2 linked regions of the Homo sapiens genome follow. The protein of the gene in region 1 purifies or fractionates together with the protein of each later gene. This does not show direct contact. Each region holds a gene or a part of one and is shown in the gene's direction. Other genes may lie near its edges.

Evidence for each region. Proteins that work in one complex are often made in the same cells at the same time.
Region 2: the proteins of BLVRA (region 1) and CLCN7 purify together in Homo sapiens (affinity purification with mass spectrometry; one large-scale study listed by BioGRID and IntAct). This does not show direct contact.

What each region holds. Positions count from the first base shown.
Region 1 is NC_000007.14:43,803,098-43,808,729, forward strand, and holds the end of BLVRA (biliverdin reductase A), read left to right. Parts: intron 1-578; coding exon 579-750; intron 751-3,879; coding exon 3,880-4,138; 3' UTR 4,139-4,245; downstream 4,246-5,632. UniProt on the Homo sapiens protein: Reduces the gamma-methene bridge of the open tetrapyrrole, biliverdin IXalpha, to bilirubin with the concomitant oxidation of a NADH or NADPH cofactor. Does not reduce bilirubin IXbeta.
Region 2 is NC_000016.10:1,451,029-1,455,262, reverse strand, and holds part of CLCN7 (H(+)/Cl(-) exchange transporter 7), read left to right. Parts: intron 1-12; coding exon 13-129; intron 130-797; coding exon 798-852; intron 853-1,368; coding exon 1,369-1,429; intron 1,430-2,369; coding exon 2,370-2,508; intron 2,509-3,546; coding exon 3,547-3,640; intron 3,641-4,234. UniProt on the Homo sapiens protein: Slowly voltage-gated channel mediating the exchange of chloride ions against protons. Functions as antiporter and contributes to the acidification of the lysosome lumen and may be involved in maintaining lysosomal pH.

The sequences.
Region 1 (5,632 bases):
TTGTATCAATTTTCTTGATATTGAAATAGCTCAAAGGTATTACCATTTTCTCCATAGCTATTATAATACCTTCATACCTTATTGCCACTTACACATCAGGTAGTTATAAGAATACAGGCTTGCAGGGCTAAAATACTTTGATTCTTCTACTTTTACCAGACTACTTTAAATCACTAAAGAGGATATATATATATGTATATGTAGGTATGTGTTGTGTGTGTGTGTGTGTGTATGTATATCTACATATGTGTACATAGATGTATATATTAGAAGCCTGAAACTTTTTTATTATCCTGTTTGGCTGGATTGACTGCTGTTTCCAGTAGAATGTTTTACTAAAACTCAATTTAATAAACAGGAAAAGACAGAGATGCTTTTATGATAGAGTTGAAGTTCAGCCACCTGAGTTTTCATCAGTATCATTAATCACGTTGCCTGCCTACCACATAAGGCAAGGTCCCATTGTACTGATCACTCGGCCACATCTTTTCACACCCCCGCCACCCCCACCCCCCTGTCCTGCTTTCCACTTGGCATTCCTGCTTCCCAGTTCCCACAGCATTTGTGATTTCCCACAGCTGGCCCGTTGGAAGAAGAGCGGTTTGGCTTCCCTGCATTCAGCGGCATCTCTCGCCTGACCTGGCTGGTCTCCCTCTTTGGGGAGCTTTCTCTTGTGTCTGCCACTTTGGAAGAGCGAAAGGAAGATCAGTATATGAAAATGACAGTGTGTCTGGAGACAGAGAAGAAAAGGTAAGTCATGAGAAGCCATGAGGAGGAGGAAATTTAAGGACATCCTAGTACATTTGCAGGTATGATCCAAAGGGAGCCCCGAGGGGCTAGACCCTCACTCCCAGCTCCAGAAGGGCTGTCTGCTTCTGCAGATGGAGTGCTGAGATTGCACTTGTGTTGCCTCATCTCATCCTCTCAGCAGCCCTGTGAGGTAAAGAAGACAAACATAATCCCATCTGCCAGTCAGTAGACAGAGGCTTACAGAATGCCAGCAGGTTGCCTAAGTCATGCAAGTCATTCATAGCAGATTAGTAGTGGAAATTACATTACCTTGGCTGGGCGTGGTGGCTCAGGCCTATAATCCCAGCACTTGGGGAGGCCAAGGGTGGTGGATCACCTGAGGTCAGGAGTTTGAGACCAGCCTGGCTAACATGGTGAAACCCTGTCTCTACTAAAAATGCAAAAATTAGCCGGTGTGGCGGTGCATGCCTGCAGTCCCAGCTCCTTGGCAGGCTGAGGCAGGAGAATTGCTTGAACCTGGGAGGCAGAGGTTGCAGTGAGCTGAGATCAGGCCACTGCATTTCAGCCTGGGCAACAGAGCGAGACTCCTTCTTGAAAAAAAAGAAAAGAAAAAGAAATTATGTTAACTCTGTGACCTGATTTTTTTCCTGTGTTTTCTTATGAAAGTTTTCGGGCATATTGTGAAGTTGAAAGAATTTTTAAGTAAACACCCATCCACCTACTCCCTAGACCCTGCCATTAACACTGTACATGTTCCCCGCAGGGCCACACATTCACCCCTCAGTGCAGCCAGAGTGTGAGGGTCTGTGTTTCAGCTTTAGCATCCCATCACCCTGTCACACTGTTCCCAAAACATTCTGACTTATTTCTCATACCAGGTCTTTTTTAACAAAAGCACATTCATAATTTTCCTCCCAAAGCACCTGGGCTCTGTAAATTATTTAGAACAGTAAGGGTTTTAGAGTGTTTCTGGATGCCTTTGCAGAGAGGTGGGTCTCCTGGTAGTAAAAGAAGCAGACACTGGGTATTTTAAAAAGAAAAAAGAATTTGAGTTCCTGAATGAAGCCTGATCTAGTCCATTTTGAGGAGTTTCTTCTTCGCTAGGAAAAGGCAGAGAGGCCTGGCAGATGAAAGCAAAGCACATGGAACTTGGCAGTGCTCCCTATGGAGTGACCAACAGTGGTGGCCCGGGCTCTGGTGTGGCCATGTGAGTGTTAGGATTGCAGCCGTGGTCAGACCTATACACAGACAGTTGTAGCACCCTGTAATTAGAGGTAAAGATACTGTAGGGTGCTGTAGGAGCACAGGGAAGGGGAACCTGGACTAGGTCAGCTCATGGTTCTGATGGGAGGCGGTGCCTTGTTTGGTCTTGAAGTTGAGTAGAAGTCAATGAGGAAGCAAGATGTTGGGGAGGCAGAGGCTGACTCTCTCTCTCTTTTTTTTTTTTTTTTATGAGACAAAGTCTTGCTCTGTCACCCAGGCTGGAGTGCGGTGGTGTGATCTCAGCTCACTGCAACCTCCATCTCCCGGGTTCAAGTGATTGTCCTGCCTCAGCCTCCCGAGTAGCTGGGATTATAGGCGCCTGCCACCACGCCCGGCTCATTTTTGTATTGTTAGTAGAGACAAGGTTTCACCATGTTGGTCAGGATGGTCTTGAACTCCTGACCTCAAGTGATCTGCTCACCTTGGCCTCTCAAAATGCTGAGATTACACGCATGAGCCACTGCACCCAGCCCTGGCTCTCATTTTTGCACAGGAGAGGCAAGCATCAGATGAGGGATTGGGACAGAGAGCAGTTAATATAATATAATAGTAACTTCTTAAAATCATAGTACTTTCCGTGTCCCAAATTGCATTTTTAAATTTTTTTATCTATTTATTTATTTATTTTGAGACCGGGTTATGAGACTGGCTGATTTTCGTATTTTTGGGTAAGATGGGTTTTTGCTATACTGTCTAGGCCGGTCTCAAATTCCTGGGCTCAAGCGATCCACCCACATCAGCCTCCACGCCTGGCCACAAACTGCATTTTTATCTCACAATGTCACAGCAAGATAGGTAAAGCTGTATACTTATTACCATTACTTATTTTTACTAGTGAGGAAATTGAGGTACAAGAAAGATCTTGACATTCTGCATTCCCTCAAATCCCAAGATTCCATATTATTTAAAAGGACATGAGAGGCCGGGCACAATGGCTCACGCCTGTAATCCCAGCACTTTGGGAGGCTAAGGCAGTTGGATCACCTGAAGTTGAGAGTTCAAGACCAGCTTGGCCAACATGGTGAAACCTTGTCTCTACTAAAAATACAAAAATTAGCCAGGCGTGGTGGCAGGTGCCTGTAATCCCAGGTACTGGGGAGCCTGAGGCAGGAGAATCGTTTGAACCTGGAGGCAGAGGTTGCAGTGAGCCGAGATTGCACCACTGCACTCCAGCCTGGGCAACAAGAGCAAACATCTCAAAAAAAAGACATGAGAAATTTTCTTAGGCAGACTACGTAGAATACCTCAAGTTTATTTTTATTCAGTGCCAAAATAAAAGTTAATCTTTGTTGCCATCTCCCAGAACATTTGCTAGACTGTACTATGAGCTTTTAAAACTAGTCATGGGAGGCCAGGTGCAGTGGCTCACGCCTGTAATCCCAGCAGTTTGGGAGGCCAAGGCAGGTGGGTCTCTTGAGGTCAGGAATTCAAGACTAGCCTGGCTGACATGGCAAAACCCCATTTCTACTAAAAATATTTTTTTAAAAAGTAGCCAGGCATGGTGGCAGGCGCCTGTAATCCCAGCTACTTGGGAGGCTGAGGCAGGAAAATTGCTTGAACCCAGAAGGCAGAGGTTGCAGTGGGTCGAGATTGCACCACTGCACTCCAGCCTGGGTGACAGAGCAAGGCTCCATCCCAGAAAAAAAAAAGTCACTGAATGAATTCCCCTGCCTGATGGCAAAATTAAATTAAAGACTGTTTGGCTGTGAGGTTGACACAGTCACCCACAGCCTCTGGGAGGCTGGTGGCTGCAAGGAGGATGGGTGCCTGACAAGGACATGTTACCAGGCGGTCTGGTGCCAGCAAGCACCCACTTGTGCTCTTGTGTAATCTCTAACATGATTCTTTTGTCTTTTGTCTTTGCAGTCCACTGTCATGGATTGAAGAAAAAGGACCTGGTCTAAAACGAAACAGATATTTAAGCTTCCATTTCAAGTCTGGGTCCTTGGAGAATGTGCCAAATGTAGGAGTGAATAAGAACATATTTCTGAAAGATCAAAATATATTTGTCCAGAAACTCTTGGGCCAGTTCTCTGAGAAGGAACTGGCTGCTGAAAAGAAACGCATCCTGCACTGCCTGGGGCTTGCAGAAGAAATCCAGAAATATTGCTGTTCAAGGAAGTAAGAGGAGGAGGTGATGTAGCACTTCCAAGATGGCACCAGCATTTGGTTCTTCTCAAGAGTTGACCATTATCTCTATTCTTAAAATTAAACATGTTGGGGAAACAAGAATCTTATTGTTATGAGCTATGTTGGGATATTTGGGGTTAGGGGCTATGCAGTGGGGACAAGGCGAGAATGAGCGTTGGTTGAGCTGAGCTAAATGCTTTGTATGTCTGATTTCACTTACTCCTCCTAACAGCCCTATGAGATGAGTACTAGCAGGCCTCTTTTTTTTTTTTTTTTTTTTTTGAGAGTCTCACTGTGTCACCCAGGATGGAGTGTAGTGGCACCATCTCGGTTCACTGCAGCTTCCACCTCCTGGGTTCAATCAGTTATCCTGCCTCAGTCTCCCAAGGAGCTGAGGATTACAGGCGCGTGCCTAATCCTGGCTAATTTTTGTAGTTTTAGTAGAGATGAGGTTTCGCCACGTTAGCCAGCCTGGTCTCGCTCGAACTCCCAACCTCAGGTAATCCACCTGCCTCGGCCTCCCAAAGTGCTGGGATTAGAGGCATGAGCCACCATGCCTGGCACCAGGTCTCTTTTCATTGTATACTAGAAAATGTTGTTTGAACAGAACCCTCCGAGATGATAGAGTCACCGCCCTTCTGCTCTCGTGTTCTCAGCTGCCCTATCTACCCTGCAGGTTGCTGCTGCTGCTGGAGCCCACGCAGGTCATGTGCCACTGTGGCATTTCCTAAACACTCCTGCCTCTGAAGGTGGCACCCCATGCCCCAGTCACAATTCTTTCAGAGTGTCACAGAAGGAAAGAATCCACATGTATTCCTCAGCAGTCTGTCCCTCTGTCCAATTTGAAGAAAAAAAAAGCCCTTAATCCCGCTGTACTAATGCTCCTAAGTGTTGAGGGGTCCTTCAGGAGGGCCTTGTGTCTCCAGGCAAGAGTGACCACAGAGGTGCCCTTTGCCCCTCAGCCCCTCTCCCTGTGGCAGCAGTGACCTGCCTGTCTGGTGAAGCTGGAAAAGGGACTAAACACATGACACCCAGCCACCTTCTCCCTCTGAACCGACATCCTTAGGATGCACCCAAGCTTGTCCACGTGGCAGGTGACTAAAGCAGACTCTTCCTCTGCAAGTAGGTGACCTGCAGCTGTGATGAAGAATTGAGTTACCCTAAGACAGGGCAGTTACCCTAAGACAGAGCCTAAGACAGTTACCCTAAGACAGAGCCTAAGAGTTACCCTAAGAGTTTAAGAGCCTAAGACAGAGTTACCCTAAGGTGGAGCCTAAGAGTTATCCTAAGACAGAGTTACCCTGCAGGGAGCCAAAGGCCCGCGGGACGTGACCAACTCAGCATTCCGCTGGAGGCTATATGATCAAACAGCGAACTGTTTATCATGAATGCAGGATGTGGGCAAACTCACACTGCCTTGCCACCAAAATGTTTGCTGAGGGACATCATGCCCTGGCGCCGGGCTCCTGGAAGTTATCTATTGAGAAAT
Region 2 (4,234 bases), on another chromosome or scaffold:
CCTCTGCCGCAGTTCTTTGCTTCCATGATCTCCACGTTCACCCTGAATTTTGTTCTGAGCATTTACCACGGGAACATGTGGGACCTGTCCAGCCCAGGCCTCATCAACTTCGGAAGGTTTGACTCGGAGGTAACCTGCCCCATCGCCCACCTCGCCCACCTCGTATCCTGGTCCAGGACCCTGTTTGCTTAAGGCCCAGGTTGAGAATTTGGTCCTTTAGAAAACTCTGGTTGATAGCTGTGGAGCTGAGAGCTCTTGTGTAAGCTCCAGGGCCCCGAGGGGCTGCAGGAAGACACCCCAAGCTGCCCCTCAGGTCAGGGCACCATGTGACCAGCAGGGCACCTGGGATGTCACACAGTTGCTGCGTGCATGGGGCCTCCCACGGCCTGGGGGCACGTGCAGCAGCCGCTCTCGGGGCAGGTGGGCTCAGGCCTAGTTTCCAGGGTAGCCTGGGGCCTGGGCTGGGGAGACTCTCCGTGCCATCGATAGGGCGGCTCTGTGCGCAGGAAACTGGGGGACCACGGGCTATGTTCCCAGTGCTTGGGGCCCTCCCCGCCCCGGGTGCTGAGGGTGGCAGGGTCTCTGAGAGCCTCGCTGGCCACCCCGCCAGGCAGGGGCCAGGCCTGCTCAGAACACCCAGTGTGTTTCTCCCCTGTGGACTTCCGCAGCCTGCGTGGAAGGGCGGGAAGGCTCTCTGTGGGGACAGCTCTCTTAAGATGGTGGTCCTTGAGTTTCAGCAGAAAGGAGCTGTGGGCCTTTTCCCTCACATCCTCTGCCTTCTCCCTCTCTCTGCACAGAAAATGGCCTACACGATCCACGAGATCCCGGTCTTCATCGCCATGGGCGTGGTGGGTAAGGGCTTCTCCCAGCACCGCAGGGACGGCCTGCGGGCCTGGCTCAGCTGTGACGTGGCCATAGAGACGAGGACTGGAGGCTGTGGCTCCCTGGAGCCTGCCCTCATCCCAGGGCCACCCGGGGGCCTCCAGATTCTTCCATGGGCAGTACACGTGGGGAGTGGGGAGCCCAAAGCTTCGCTTCTGTGGCTTCCCGTTGTTTATCTCTGTTGGCAAAAACCACAGGGCTGCAGGGATGGATGGGATTTCCTGTAAGAGATAGAATTGCTCCCACCAGTATTTATTGCTCTGCTGGACACCTTTGCCCTGGAAGGAAGGCAGAGCCTTTGAGAAACAGCTCCCCCAGCCCTCAGGGTGTGATGATGTGGAGGAAGCATCTTACCAGGACCCCCTAGCCCCCTGCCGTCCCCTTCCCTCTGCAAACCCTCCAGCTTCTCCTGCCATCTGGGAGCCGGCGGGCGGAGGCCCGCACTTTTCCTCCGGTGTCGCTGACTGGCCTTTCCCCTGTTCGCAGGCGGTGTGCTTGGAGCAGTGTTCAATGCCTTGAACTACTGGCTGACCATGTTTCGAATCAGGTGAGGAGAAACCGCATTGCATATCGCGTTGGCAGGCGTGGCCACACAGGCCCTTTGAAAGCGGACGTGGTGGAATGGGGTTTACACTCCTAGGCCACAGCCGAAAGAAAGGCTGTGTATGCAGCGTCCTTCCTGATGGTTTCCCCGGTGGAGCTGGTCAGAGATGTGTCCCGGGGCCTGGAGGGTGACGGACTAGCCCAAGGCTAGGAGTGCGAGGGCTCCTGGAGGACGGCCCCTGGGTAGGAAGTGAGGCCCTGCGTGGGATCGGGCCTGGGCGAGGCATGCCCAACCTTCACCGCCTGGCTCTGCCTGGTAGCAACCGCAGCTGTCCTGGGACACCGGGGCCCCCCGGCTTCTTCCTTCTTGGTCTGTGCTGATTTCAATACTGTCGGGTACAGCCGGGGCACGGGTAGCGCCACTTCCCACACATCTGGAGAAGTTGCTGCCGAGGAGTCTTTACCCCAGGGAAGAGGACGACCCCAGGACATTTGGGTGCCTGATTGATGATTAAACACAGGCCTGGCCGGGCGCGGTGCCTCACGACTATAATCCCAGCACTTTGGGAGGCCGAGGCGGGTGGATCACCTGAGGTCGGGAGTTCTAGACCAGCTTGACCAACATGGAGAAACCCCGTCTCTACTAAAAAATTCAAAAAAAAATTAGCCAGATGTAGAGCCGGGCGCCTGTAATCCCAGCTACTCGGGAGGCTGAGGCAAGACAATTGCTTGAACCTGGGAGGTGGAGGTTGCAGTGAGCCAAGATCGCAGCACTGCACTCCAGCCTGGGCAACAAGAGCAAAACTCCGTCTCAAAAACAAAAACAAACAAACAAAAAGCACCACGGGCCCAGTGTCCTCCATCAGGGACTCGAGTTGCCATGGGGCCTGCGGAGGGGCCGCGCTGCCGTCCTGCCTGCCATGCAGCCTGATTCTTGGTTCCAGGTACATCCACCGGCCCTGCCTGCAGGTGATTGAGGCCGTGCTGGTGGCCGCCGTCACGGCCACAGTTGCCTTCGTGCTGATCTACTCGTCGCGGGATTGCCAGCCCCTGCAGGGGGGCTCCATGTCCTACCCGCTGCAGGTGGGAGGCTGGGCCCGGGCGGGGTCCAGCAGGCAGGGCAGCCACAGGGCGGCCTCCAGGAGGCTCGCTTAGGCTACGGGAGGAGGGCTGCCCACCCCGCCGAGTTCCAGAAGCGCATGGGCTGGCGTGTCTCAAAGAGGGTTAGTCCTGTCCACCCAGATCTCAGAGGAGGCCAGGTGTCTGCTGAGGTGCCAGGGGAATGGGCGGTGGTATGGGGGCCAGAGGCTCCCCCCAGTCCTCTTCCCAGAATGGCAGCCTGACGGGGCGAGCCTCAGGCGCCCTATGGGGGCACCATAGATGTGGACCCAGGAGAAATGCAAACCTCCGTCCACAACTGGACCTGTGCCTGGCGCTCACGGCTCACCGCCGTCCGTGCGTCCATCTGCACTGTGACACGGTTGCCCTGGAAAGCACTACGCTCAGAGGAACCACACGTGAGGTCACGCGACGTAGCCCCATTAACATGAAACATCCAGAACAGGGAGAGCCTAGAGGCCCAGCAGACCAGTGGGTGCCACGGCGGGAGTGGGCAGGATGGGACGGGTCAGGTGTGAACCGTTAGAGACGTGGGAGGCCCGGGGCCATGGGGTTGACCAGCCTTGCTACACTCTGCTCCAGCCCCGTGGATAACACCCCCTGTGCTGCTGGAGCCCAGGAGGCTCTGGGCCTGTGGCACCGGGGCGCCAACAGCCTCTTCTAGGAGCTCATGTGAGCGCCTGGGCCCACCTTCCCCGGCACCAGGGATGGACAGCGTCTCAGCCCATGGTCCTGCTAACCCACCCCCCAGGGCTAGACACGGCCCCCTGCTGGGCCTAGGCCGTGTGTGTCCTCCTTTCCCTCCGTGACCATGGCTTGGGCCTTGTGTGTCCTCCTTGCCCTCTGTGACCGTGGCCCTGACCCAATGGCAGGATCGTGTGGTTTCGCGCCTGATGCTGGCCAGGCACAGGGTACACGGCCTCTCACGGCGACACCAGGTTTGTGCCTGCAGCCCACCAGCTCATCTCCCCTCCCAACGTGTGCTCTCTCCCGACCCCACAGCTCTTTTGTGCAGATGGCGAGTACAACTCCATGGCTGCGGCCTTCTTCAACACCCCGGAGAAGAGCGTGGTGAGCCTCTTCCACGACCCGCCAGGTGTGTGTGGGCAGTGCCGCTGGGCAGGCCCTGGGATCAGGGCCTGGGTGATGCCTTCTGGCTGAGTGTCCCCTGTGGGCTGAGGTTGCAGCCCTGGGCTGGGGGGTCATCCCTAGCATGGATCATAGCAGGGACTCACTCCTGTAATCCCAGCACTTGGAGAGACCAAGGCAGGAGGATCACTTGAGCCTAGGAGGTTAAGACCAGCCTGGGCAACTTAGCGAGACTCTGTCTTTGCAAAAAAGCAACATTATCTGGCTACGGTAGTACACCCACAGTCCCAGGTACTTGGGAGGCTGGGCCGGGAGGATTGCTTGAGCCCAGAAGGTTGAGGCCACAATGAGCTGTGATTACATCACTGCATACCAGCCTGGGTGACACAGCGAGACCCTCTCTCAAAAAACAAAAGAAAACCCAGCCTGGTGACTCCCACACCAAGACCACGGCCTGGCCTCGCTCGACCACAAGTGTTTCACGGAAGCGCAGACCGCGACCTTGGAGTGCCGGCCTTTCACCTCTGCAGTTGTGTCCCTGGCGGTCTCACCCGCCCTGCACGCAGTACAGTGCTGCCTGCTCCAGGAAAGGAACCCCAGG